4 linked regions of the Homo sapiens genome follow. The protein of the gene in region 3 purifies or fractionates together with the protein of the main gene of each other region. This does not show direct contact. Each region holds a gene or a part of one and is shown on either strand. Other genes may lie near its edges.

Region 1 (2,861 bases), on a different chromosome or scaffold from region 3:
GAATCTCTGAAAAAGCTGATTCCTGGGTTGAGTTTATGGTTAGCGACATCGCTTCCTGCCATAAAAACCTGTGCAACTTTGCCTTTGGAGAGGCCTGTGTGCTGGTGGGAATTAAATTCAAAAGCCAATAGCATGTTACCTTTGTGTCATAACAACCTCCAGGACTTGGGTTAGGTGAGTTCAGGTCCTCACGGCAGCAGATGGTATTACAGGGGTCACCTCTACTGTAAGGATCCTTCTTATAATCTAGGAAACAGAAATGGGGAAGAGAGTGATTATTGGCTATTTGGAGACACACTTCTCCACAGTAAGGTTTTGAGGCCTGTTAAAGCCTAGATAATCAGAGAGTGTACTCCCACAGGCCTCCTCAGCCCAGTCTGCTTCCAGATAGAGACATCTCCCTTGGCTTGTGAGGAAGGAGTAAGTCCTTGGCCCCAGGCCCAGCCTGCCCTCAAGAACCTTACACAGTGAAAAATGGATGGGAAAGAGAACCAGATAAACGTCCATCAGCTGTTTCCAACAAAATAAATACAAATTTGACTTTGATGCTGTTCATACAAAAAAAATGAGGTATTTATGAACAATGTTTTGTTTTATTAGCTGCTGTTATCCTTGGAAGGAAACTTGTGTTTGGAGAAAAATTTTAAAGGACCCTCTATGAGTTATTTCTTCTGTGTTTTACAGATGATTTTTTTTTTTTCAATTAAAAAATGTATAGACTCTTCTCTTTCATTTTATAAAGGAGGCCAAAGCTCTATTTATTGAGTATAAAATGTACAATATTAGTTAAATACTTAAATAACTTCTTATAATTCCTTCTAGTACAGAGATGATAAACTTACATGGATTCTGTATCCATAGGGAAGAAAAGGAGTTTTGAAGAATGATTCTTGAGAAATATGCTACGTACTGTTGTATCGCATGATATATTTCATGGATGCCGTATCAGTCACTTTCCCTTGGTCACGCCGGAAAATTTTGGCTCGTGGAGCTAAATCATAAGAGTAGTCCAAGCCCAGCTTCTGAACTAACAGTGGATAGCCACTCCAGTTGTAGATTTTTTCATGGAAAGGAACATTGTAGGAGGGCCAATATCCTGATTTGGAATGGAAGGGAAGTAAGGGAGGGATTGACAGGGAAGGAGACAGAAAAGGAGAGAGAGCAAAAGAAATGTTATCCATGTTCATTTATTTTGAAAATGGGCACAGGCATTTAATTACAAAATAATGTACAGAAAATAAAGCTTTGCATGTGAACCCTGGCAGCCAAACAGCCTTTTAAATTTCCTAAATCAGCACAGCTCTAGGTTATTTCATTAGGGGAAGAAGAGCATCAGAATTCTCTGGTTTTCACCCAAAATTCTTAATCTCTAAGCCAAAAAACAACCATATTCTCTATAGAGCAAAATAAAGTATAATGCAAGGTGGTCTGGGGAGCTCATCTAAGTGGATTTAGTTACTGAAATGCCAAGAAATGGTTGTTCACAGTGTGGCCCTATAAAGGAAGATGTCAAATGGTAATCATGAAGTAGTGGAAGAACATAGCACTGGGAATAGAAAGCCTGAATTCTAGGCTCAGGGCTTAAGAATCAGGTCTTAGGCAGGCAACTTCATTTGTTTTGTTTCTGTTTCTTTTTTTTTGAAAGACGTCAATGGGGAGGGAGAGGAGAAGTCCATAATGTAAGGGGATTGGGGATGATCTTTTAGGTTACATTAGGCTTTTAATTCCTTTGACTCTAAACATTTATAAAGGCTCAGCTTCATTCAAAGCTTCATAGTGTGTGAAGGCCACATAGCCTACTAGTCACTGAGCACCAAATATGTGACACAGCTCTCTCTTGTAAAAGCAGAATTTCAGAAACATCCTGGATGACACTGGCCTGGGTTACTGCCTACAGAACAGTCAAGGAATGTCTCCACCATGCAGGGTTCTCTCCCACCTCCACATTCTCTCCTGGCCCTTTTCTGCCTTTCTCCTTTGTATTGTTGTACAGGACCTCCTCTTTAGGGGTGAGGTTACTGAGACAAAAAGAAAATGATAAGACATTCAGCCTTGCTAATTCTGAGACAGAGCCAGCATCAGAAGAACTGAGATATGGATGACATTGAAATTAAAGAAGAAAAACAGATTTGTTGCTAAAACATATCTAGGTTATATAGGCTCAGGAATTAGATTGCCTGGATTTGAAGCCTGGTTCTGCCATTATTAGGTATGTGACCTTGAACAAATTGCTTATCCCCTTTGTGCCTCAGTTTCTTCATCTTCATTAACTATTCAGCATTAAGCATCTTCATAAGCATGAGCATGAAATGCATTCAGATGGAGTGCTTACAATAGTATCTAATACTTGGTAAACATTAGATTATTATATTTCTCTTTGTGAAAACAGCTCAAATGAATAACGAAAATGTCTACTTTATACTTCACATTTCATGAAGCTTCGTGATTTAAAACAGAGCAACTTGGCCTGGTGCAGTGGCTTGTGCCTGTAATCCCAGCACTTTGGGAGGCTGAGGCAGGTGGATTGCTTGAGCTCTGAAGTTCAAGACCAGGCTGGGCAATATGGCAAGACCCTGCCTCCACTAAAAATATAAAAAAATAGCCAGGCATTGGGGTGCACACCTGTGGTCCCAGCTACTCGGGAGGCTGAGGCCCGAGAACCGCTTGAACCCGAGAGGCAAAGGTTGTAGTGAGCCGAGATCACGCAGCTGCAATCTAGCCTGGGTGACAAAGCGAGACCCTGTCTCAAAATAAATAAAGAAAATAGAGCAGCTTGTTTAATCTCACAAAAACCTGATGATGTATAAGTATTACCATCCCTTTTTTAAACAGAAGAAACAGAGTTTCAGAGAGGTCAATTG
Region 2 (3,500 bases), on a different chromosome or scaffold from region 3:
ACACTTATAACCTTTTTCAAACCTTTGTTTTATTTTTTTTTACCAGGTGGATTTAGTTTTGGAGAAGGAGGTGGCTGGCCTCTGGATCAAGATCCCATGCACAGACTACATTGGCAGCTGTACCTTTGAACACTTCTGTGATGTGCTTGACATGTTAATTCCTACTGGGGAGCCCTGCCCAGAGCCCCTGCGTACCTATGGGCTTCCTTGCCACTGTCCCTTCAAAGAAGTAAGTACTTAGGGAGGAGAGAGCGTTACCCCTGTGGCTAAAGAGATGGGGTTTGGAGAGAAGGGTCTTTGCATTCTCCTTCTGCAGATCTGCATGTCTCTGGATTTGTAAGCCAGTGTGACCTATCAGGAATCACTTATCTTCCGGGAGCCTCAGTTATCCATCTACGAAATGGGAGACTTGAACTTAGATGTGATCTTCAGGGCCCTTTATCCATAATAATCCATGCTCTACAGTGCTATGGCCGTCTCTCATCTTGTGCGGCTGTTTTGAGAATGGGAAGAGGGGTGGTAGTTCATGGCTGCAATCCTAGCAGTGGCTCTAGGAGAAAGACCCCATCAGTAGGCTCCCACTGACTGGCGGTCCACTGGCTTTCCCGCAGGGAACCTACTCACTGCCCAAGAGCGAATTCGTTGTGCCTGACCTGGAGCTGCCCAGTTGGCTCACCACCGGGAACTACCGCATAGAGAGCGTCCTGAGCAGCAGTGGGAAGCGTCTGGGCTGCATCAAGATCGCTGCCTCTCTAAAGGGCATATAACATGGCATCTGCCACAGCAGAATGGAGCGGTGTGAGGAAGGTCCCTTTTCCTCTGTTTTGTGTTTGCCAAGGCCAAACTCCCACTCTCTGCCCCCCTTTAATCCCCTTTCTACAGTGAGTCCACTACCCTCACTGAAAATCATTTTGTACCACTTACATTTTAGGCTGGGGCAAGCAGCCCTGACCTAAGGGAGAATGAGTTGGACAGTTCTTGATAGCCCAGGGCATCTGCTGGGCTGACCACGTTACTCATCCCCGTTAACATTCTCTCTAAAGAGCCTCGTTCATTTCCAAAGCAGTTAAGGAATGGGAACCAGAGTGTTTTAGGACCTGAAGAATCTTTATGACTCTCTCTCTTTCACTCTTTTTTTTTTTTGTCACTAAGTTAAAAGCGAAGTGAGAGTATTAACGTTTTTGTTCTCCTCCGGCCCCCTGTTACAATGAAGGGGCAAAAGTATTTGCTCTTAGTCTATTCCTCCCTTAACTTCTGTGACTAATTTTTATTTCCTTTCTAGATTTGCCCAATTAATACTAGGGTGCAGTGTATCCTGGAGAGGTAGGGTGTGTGGGGGAGGAATCCCTTGGGGGAGATATTAGGAGTGCTCTGTTGTTTACAAACTCAGGTACCCGCAGGGCCTAGCAAGAGACTTAAATGACTGATAAGAACCGTGAGAAACATGTTGCTTCCAGGCTTGATTTCGATTTTTCGCTTTTTTTTTTTTTGAGACAGAATCTCACTTTGTCACCAGGCTGGAGTGCAGTGGTGCAATCTCACCTCACTGCAACCTCCGCCTCCTGGGTTCAAGCAATTCTCCTGCCTCAGCCTCCCAAGTAGCTTGGACTACAGGCCCTGCCACCACGCCCGGCTAATTTGTGTATTTTTAGTAGAGATGGGGTTTCACCATGTTGGCCAGGATGGTCTCGATCTCTTGACCTCGTGATCTGTCCACCTTGGCCTTGCAAAGCGCTGGATTACAGGCATGAGCCACTACACCCAGCCGATTTTTCCTTTTTGATTAAAGATGCTATTACAATGTAAATATTTCTTACACAGAAAGTCACAGCACATGTGCCCATTGATACAAGGCTGCTGAGGCCTGGTCTCCAGTTGGAAATATAATTAAGGGTGGCAAGGACTGGAGTCAGTTGGAGAGTGCATAGCCAGTCTGTGAAGACAACTGCCAGATACTGGCAATACTCCAGCCTGGTGACAGAGTGAGACTCTGTCTCAAAAAAAAAGTTTCAATGTTTACTCCTAGAGAAGCCAAAAATCCAGATTTGTATATGAAATCTTACCATTTTAAAAGATTGGCAGCTAATTATTTTTTTAAAAAGCTGTGCAGTGTGATGTGTCCCAAACGGACTGGCTCATGGGTGGCCACGTCACAACCTCTGATCTCAGACCGTGCATGCCTTGTCCTCTTAAGACAACTCCTGTGGCACCGTTTCTCCCTCCACAGGGCCAAAGCCATAGTGTCCGGTCCCAAGGACAAGGCTCTTCCAGTGCTAGGAGAGGTATGAGCAGCCTCTCACCTGTGAGCTGTGGGGATCACAAGGCTGCCTGCCTCAGTCTTGGAGTCCTGTTGGGTGAATGAGGCAGATGGGAAAGAGCCTCACCAGCAGCTGCTTTTGGAGCAGGGGTCCAAGGAAGAGAGGGTGGCCTCGACATCAAACTGCCTGGATTTTTCTACCACCCTGTTACATCATAACAACTTCTGAAACACACACCAGCCCTGAGTTCTGGGCTCATTTGAAGCCTGGAATAGCAATAAATCTTTTTAACTTGCGGACAGTTTCCCCTTGCCTTGGCTGCATATTTCACTGATCACATCTCAGGATTTCAAAAGCATTTTTGGGGTGGGGCTCTTTTGGTTGGAAGGGTTTGTTGGAACGGTACAGGTGAGCCGAGGTGATTCCAGGGACGGACCCTTCTGCAGGAGCTTGAGCTTGCTTGTTGTCTCTGCTTCATCGCCATCCAGCTCCCTTGTTTGCTATTTTGCTTTCCATCACATCATGACTGCGGAGAGCAAAAATCACCTAGTGACCATTGAACAGGTCCCAGAGACAAAATCTTTTTATCTGAGGAATTTAAAAGGGAGCAAAGACCACCTGGTGACTATCAGGCCATGCAGAGGCAAAACGCCTTATTTGGGGAAAATTAAAAGTAATTAGACTTTCCTATTATCTAAAGCAGGCATCTGGTTCCAGATTTCTTTTCCCCGAAAAAAACCTTAGAAGTAACTAAAATTTCTGTACATCTCCGGAATGCCATGCTGAAACTCACTGCAACCCCACGGTCCCGCTTTAAGGTCCATAAATATCCCTAAGGAAAAATCCACCGTGGTACATTCAGTCCTCTCACCGAGGTGCCCCATGGCAGTCTTCTGCAGCATTCTTCTAATACCTTTCCTTTTTCAAACCTATACTGTTGTTGGTGAATTCTTTTTACCAACCCACGAGTTGACCACTTCCCAATGCCGGGGATCTGACACCTCACCTGGCAATGACCTCCACAGCCGTTTCCCTCTGTTGGATCTTCCAGCCTTATTCTCAACAGTTCATTTTTAGTTCACATTCTTGACCGAATCTCAGTAGCTCAGTTAATCTTTTTATGTCTGCTCTGCTCTTGGGTCATATGTTCCGTGAGGTTTCTTAGGGGTGGGGGATGAGGAGTTAAAGGTGGCATCTTCAATCGCAGGTCAAAGCAGACTTTAATAAATGGTGCTGAGCCAA
Region 3 (2,724 bases):
GAAGATATCCCCGGGCTGTGTGGGGGTGTGCACCCAGCCCCCGTGGCACACCACTGCTGCCCAAAGCAATCTCTGTACCAGGGATCCAGACTGGCCACCAATCCCTATACTTATGTCCCCAGCAACATTTATCAACCATTCTCCCAATCTCCCTTCCCTGCTCTCCTCTGATCACTCCTCCAGTACTAGAACCAGGAAGTTCTCCCCCACATGGTAGAGAAAGTGATCCAGGAGATGGGAAGCAACCATGGTCACGAAATGAGTAGGCAGCAGGCTAGGTTCCACTCACTGGAACTCCCAGGCCATCTGACACCGGACAGTCAGGTAACTGGAGGAAATCCAAAATGAAAATCTAGGCCTCAGGAGTGCATCCATAACAGTTCAGAAAAGAGGACAGAGAGGAGATGAGAGAGGAACTAAAGGGGGTGACTACCCCAACTCCAGGCCCAACCTTCAAGTCTTGGATCTTGATTCTTAATGAAAAAAACTCAGTCTGATTGTTTTAAATAATAAAACTCAGGATATTTTAATTGGACATTAGCACAAAGTTTTGATAATTAATGTAAATGAACCTTGTCTACAAAGCGAAGCATGCCTGCTGGTGAGCCACACAGATACTGCTCCTTCAGATTGAGGTTGTACATGCCCCCAAAGGCTCGCTTCATTGCTACGATTCTCTACTTAAATCCACATTCACAGCTATTGCCTCAGACCCTCTGGAGGAGGGGCCAGGGGTTAGCTGGCTTTGAATAGCATGTAGAGCACAGGCAGTGTGGCCACAAATGTCACACAGGTGACCAGGGTGCTATAGATGGTGTTCCTGTTGACTTGGGCTTCTAGTCTCTGCTCCGTGTCTGACAGTGCCAAGATCATGCTCCCCTGCTCCAGCAAGAAGCTGGGCATAGCCCCGTCTGCTGGTTCCACCAGGCCTGGGTGTGCTGCAGACTTTACAAGCTGAACCACCCCAGCCATTTGGCTACAAGTCTTTTCTAGGCCATCAAGCTGCTCTCGTAAGCCTTCTAGACATGAATGGACTTGCCTGGAATGACTAAGCTGCTCTTTCAAGGCAGCTGAAAGGACATCTACATCTCTGTCTCTGGTCGGGGGACTACCTGCCTGTGACCCAGAGTCCTGCCCTGGCCCAGCAGCATGTACCAGGCCCCTCAGGTCCACCATGAGATTGTGGAGGTCCCTCTGCTGGCGGGAGTAGCTAGACGCCTGTTCTCGAATGGCCTCTTGGAGACTCACAGGCCCCTTCTGCGCCTCCAGGAGTAAAGCCTTCAGCTCCTGTAGTCGCACACGGTTCACATAGGTGGAGCCAGCCACACCAATCAGGGCCCCCAGGACTGAGCCAATGAGGGACCAGTTCTTGGTCCTCTCAGCCCTTGTGCGCTCCTTCTCATGACTTTCCCGCACAGCTGCAGAGAAGAGGGAGAACTTCTCTCGCTCAGAGTCTTCTGCACGCAGATAGGCTGTGCGAAGCCTCTTCTCCTCCTGCAGAAGCAAAGCCATGTTATTGGATTACATGGGCACAAGGTGGCCCTGCAGCTATAGCCACCAGCAGATGGCTCACTACCTTGTGCCTGGCAGAGTACATGTTCCATAGACCCATGCTGAATGAATGAAGGTAGCACCAACCTGGCTGGGTCAGAAGGGCAAAGGAATTGGGAGTGATCAAAGTGAGTTGCATGATCGTCCCACCTGAGCAGTTCTGGGTTTGACCAGAGGTGCACTTATGTCTACACAAAGGGAAGTGTCCAGCACTCCCTAGGCCAGCCCCTCCATAGTTCTCCTTCCTCAGCATTCTGAGTCCCAGGCTACGCTGCCCTGAAGAGTTGGCCCCAGTACTCCAGAAGAAAGTATATGGATAGACTCTGGAAGCTTGGGGTTCTGTCCATCCATAGGAGCTTCTGGCTCACCTCTGTACCAGGCCTCTGACTACAGACCAGTCAGGGTTCCCACCCGGCCCCTCCATGATCTGCCAGGCTAGGGTCACTGTCCAGGTGCGAAAGGGCTGCCTCCTGAGGTGCCTACCTGCAGCATCCTGTGCTCGAGAGTAGCCAGTTCCAAGTACTGACTGTCCTCCCTGGAGACACGGTCCAAGCGGTCCCTCACCTCCTTCAGCTTGGCCTGGTGAACTTCCAAGTCCTCCCGAGCCTCTCGGACAAGCCCTCGAGCCACCATGAACACTTTCTCAGCCTGCAAAGAGAAAACCGGAGGCCATCTGCACCTTCTCTCCACACCCACACAGGCTCAGCTGCATTCCCAGCAAGGCATTCCCAGAAGAGGTCACTGGGGTGTGAGCTGCAAAGGGTGGAAACGGAATTCCTTAGACACTAATCCTGGCTCACCCAGTGGTGCTCAAAGTGCAGCCTTGGGCCACACCCATCAGAATCACGAGATTTAGCCATTCAAGCAGAAATAACATGCCCCTGAAAAAACTTGAAAACAGCTAACAATGCACACAATTTGTGTCCATCAAACCTGTGTTGGTAGGCTGTTTCCCGTGTGTTGCCTTATTTATGCCTTATAACAATGCCATGAAAGGCACTGCTGTGGCCTCCAGTTTATAAACCCAGAAACACCAGCTCAGCCAAGCTCACAATCTCCAAGGAAAGAGATGGCACTGTTTGTCTCAAAGTCCCAGCTGAACCCCAGGTTCTTCCCACCACGCTACACTACTACATGCCTAAGCAGGAGTGGGAACAGAGATGACAGAATGCA
Region 4 (3,500 bases), on a different chromosome or scaffold from region 3:
TCAAGGCGTGAGGATTTAGGCTAGTATTATTTTTTAAACAGAGCAACAATCAAAATCAGATTAGAGAAGCTGTCAATTGTTCTTCCCTCTGACCACCTCTATCTTTTCTTTTTTTAAACAATTCTGACAAGAGCTCTTGGGCAGAGAGGACATGCCCATTGTTTCTCAAACACAGGAGCAGGGGGCTCGCACTGGTAAGAAGCCGCTGTGCTAGAAGGTTCTGTTTACTTGTCTGTTCTTCACCTCCAGCCCCACTAGCCCCTGAGTGCCTGCTGGATGGAGAGTGAGTCTTATTCCTGTTATTTCTCCCAGCATACAGCAGGTGCCCAATACATGCTTCCAAGTGAATGTGGACAGCATGATTTGAATGCAGCAATAGGCCAAGGTGCCCTTGAAAAGAGGGTCCTGCTGCCAGCCCTGAGCTCTGAGAGCCAAGCCAGCCATCACCGACCTGTGGGAACAGGAGGGGAGATGGCATAGGGGATCCGAAACAGCAGCCGGTTCGAAGCCCTGCCCCTCCTGTCTTTGGGCATGTATTACATGATGCCATTTTTCTTCTGCAGATTGGCATGCTCATTCCTGTCGAGCATGGCTCATGCCCTGACTCACTGAATCAAGACAAACTCCTTGGACCCTGATTCCCTATTCAGCAAAATGGACACAAGCCATGTGGCCTGTCTCACCTGTGCTTGTGACAACTCAATGCATGATGGATGTGAAGGCCCTTTGGGAACAGACGCACCAACTAGATCATGCCCAGGATGGTTGTCAAGCATAGCTGGAAGGAGGAGTGGAGACTGAATGGGGACGCTGGTTCCCAAAGGCATGTGTAGAAGGGAATTCCCACCGAGAGCGATGTCAGTGGATTCTCTGTGTGTCTTAGGCCGGGGGTGGACTCTGTGTTTTGGGGTAAGCTGAATGCTTTGGACCACCATTACACAGCGGGAGGAAGCTCACACCAGTCCTCCTTACCTGCCTCCTCGTCTCCCTTTGTCTATCTGGCAGTTGCCATTTGCCAAGCCCATCTTCAATGCAGTGCTGTTGGAAAGGAGCTCTGGATTGTCACATGGAGAACAAGGGCCACCCTTTGCTGTGACCTTCAGATTTCCCCAATCATCTTTGGACACCGTGCGTTCATGAGTCTCCCTATTGTCCCCTGCCATGCTGGAGGAAGAGCTGGGCTTCCTTCTGCCCCACGCTGCTCAACCAATCCCCAGGCTTCCCTGTCCTCCATCCCTGTCTTTCTCCCTTCTTTGCCTACTCCCTCTCCTCCCATGACAGAGATGCTTGAGTCTCCTCTGTCTTTAAACAGATCTCTTTTTACCCACTGTTTTGCTCCTTTTTCTGCAGGCTAAATTGCAGGGAGCAGCATCTCCTCTCAGCAACTCCCCATCCATCCCCATCCACTGCCTTGCCCACTGCAGCAGGCCCCATGGGGCTCCCCTTGCTTGGCCAGCAGTGCTCCTGGACGGCTCCAGAGACTTCCGAAGCACCGGATCCAGGGCCTTTTCCAGTGTCCATCCCCTGGTCCTCTAGGTAGCCCTGGGAACTGCTGCCCTGCCTTCCTTAGAGCTTTCTCTTCTTACCAGGTCTTCAGCCCCTTCTGGCACCCTGCACAGTTCCTCTTTTCCCTGGCCTTTCCTCCTTCTTGTCCCCAGCAGATGGTCTTCATATTTCTGCCCTGTCCTTCAAGACTTTTCCATACACATGCAACCCATGGTGGTCTTGCCTGTTCTCATGGCTTCGCCTGCCTGAACAAAGCTCCACTCTGTATGGTAGCTCTGGCCCCTCTGCCAGGGCCCACACCACCTCCAGCCTGGACTCCCATCCAAGTCTTCCAAACTCAACCTCTCCAAATTGGGACCCCTCTTACTCCCACCTAAAAGCCTTCTCAGGCTCTCCTCATCTGATGTGTCTTTATGAATATAACCATAGTCTCCAAGCTAAAAGCTCCAGCCTAATCAGCCCCACTGCTCCATTTCTTCCACCTCCTGTCCTTTATGTCCATGCTTATCACTGAGGAATGGGAAAGAAGAGGCCATGTGAAGATGTCATACAACAAGACCTTATACCCTAGAGGACTCTGTACCTGGCTAGCTGGGGAGGGGTGGAGGACAGAGAGGAGGCCAAGGTCACCACAGGACAAGGACAGCAGCCTCCAGGCTTCTCAGCCCACTCTGCCTTGCTCACAGGGTGAGCTTTGGTGCTGCTTTGATCATGAAACCCTCTATTCAAAACTTTGAATGGTTCCCCAGTGCCAAAGGTACAAGTCCAAGCTCTTCAGTTTGACATTAGAAGGGTTTTGTAACCTAGCCCACACCTACTTTTCTAGCTGGAGTGAACCCCATGCCCTCAAAAGACTTGTGTGCTTTTTGTCCACTCTGTTTTTCAGTTTGCTCCTAAAGGATCCCACCCCAGGCCTCTCACACATTTCCTTGATTTCCTCTGCCCTCCATGTTCTCAGCATCCCTCGCAGATCTCAGAGCCCAGAGACTTGATCAGAACGTTCATCACATTCATTTTCACGTAGACGCTGTCTTTGTCTCTCAGACTGTCCCGAAGGGCAGGGGCGTTTCTCTAGTGCCCAGCCCAGAGCCCAGCATATGCCAGGCCCTCTGCTCATGAGCAGGAAGAACCTCAGAAGAGGATGATGTCCTGGGCTCTTACCTGTCTGAGGACACCCTGCAGTTCCTTGCTGGACCACATGTCAGACAGGAGAAGCCGGGCAGCTTCTGCGGCCTTGGGTGAGGCACTGGGCAGGTGAGAAGTGCATTTGTGAGATGAGATTCCAGGAGGTGTGAGAAGGAGCACCCTCTTCCCTCCCACCCCCACTGCCAGGGCCTGGACACAGGGGAGGCCTCAGAGGAGGCCTCAGGTGTGCAAAAGAGAGGAGCCCCATTGGGGTGTGGTGAGCCTGGTCACCCTACCCAGTGGGCACAACCCCATGCCCCTGCCCACCTAGAGCACCCCAGGACTCTCCTCAGGGGCCATGAGGTGGCAGTGCTCTTCCACTCCAGTCCCCAGCCTTGTCCGGGGAAGAGAGAGCCCCACAGAGCAGGATAAAGTCCCTATTCAGTTGGACCTGCTGCCCCATGCCTCCTGCTGGCCCTCTGAGGACCTTGTGCCCCCGAGTCCCCCAGCCAGGAAGTGTGTTGCCTCTTCCCTCCATGCAGCCCTGGGGCCTGGATGCTGGACCCTTCTCTCCACGCACTCTCGGCTTCTGGAACTTCTCCTCCATTCAAGCCTCCCCCGTCCCTGGCTCCCCCTGCCCTTGGTGCTTCCCCTACTCCATGGAGAGCTGCGGGACTGCTTCCTGCTGTGCAGGGTGAGGAGGGGCTCTGATTGGGGTGCAGCCCGTGGGAGCAACCCCCCGCCCACCTGCTTCGGCACAGGTTGATGATGTTGTTGAGCATGCTGCTGGAGAAGTACTGCTTGGCCAGTTGTGGCTGCGAGGCCATCAGGTTCCTCACAGTGTAGCAGGCCGAGGACAAGATGTCTTC

The links. Proteins that work in one complex are often made in the same cells at the same time.
Region 1: the proteins of CCDC51 (region 3) and PLBD1 purify together in Homo sapiens (affinity purification with mass spectrometry; 3 studies listed by BioGRID and IntAct, with this or other methods). This does not show direct contact.
Region 2: the proteins of CCDC51 (region 3) and GM2A purify together in Homo sapiens (affinity purification with mass spectrometry; 3 studies listed by BioGRID and IntAct, with this or other methods). This does not show direct contact.
Region 4: the proteins of CCDC51 (region 3) and PKP1 purify together in Homo sapiens (affinity purification with mass spectrometry; 3 studies listed by BioGRID and IntAct, with this or other methods). This does not show direct contact.

What each region holds. Positions count from the first base shown.
Region 1 is NC_000012.12:14,506,023-14,508,883, forward strand, and holds part of PLBD1 (phospholipase B-like 1 precursor), read right to left. Parts: intron 1,097-2,861; coding exon 911-1,096; intron 247-910; coding exon 140-246; intron 1-139. UniProt on the Homo sapiens protein: In view of the small size of the putative binding pocket, it has been proposed that it may act as an amidase or a peptidase.
Region 2 is NC_000005.10:151,266,685-151,270,184, forward strand, and holds part of GM2A (ganglioside GM2 activator isoform 1 precursor), read left to right. Parts: intron 1-46; coding exon 47-229; intron 230-611; coding exon 612-767; 3' UTR 768-807; coding exon of another isoform or gene 808-956; 3' UTR 957-3,500.
Region 3 is NC_000003.12:48,431,673-48,434,396, forward strand, and holds the end of CCDC51 (mitochondrial potassium channel), read right to left. Parts: intron 2,305-2,724; exon of another isoform or gene 2,200-2,304; coding exon 2,035-2,199; intron 1,495-2,034; coding exon 736-1,494; 3' UTR 501-735; downstream 1-500.
Region 4 is NC_000001.11:201,325,006-201,328,505, reverse strand, and holds part of PKP1 (plakophilin-1), read right to left. Parts: coding exon 3,379-3,500; intron 2,753-3,378; coding exon 2,668-2,752; intron 1-2,667. UniProt on the Homo sapiens protein: A component of desmosome cell-cell junctions which are required for positive regulation of cellular adhesion.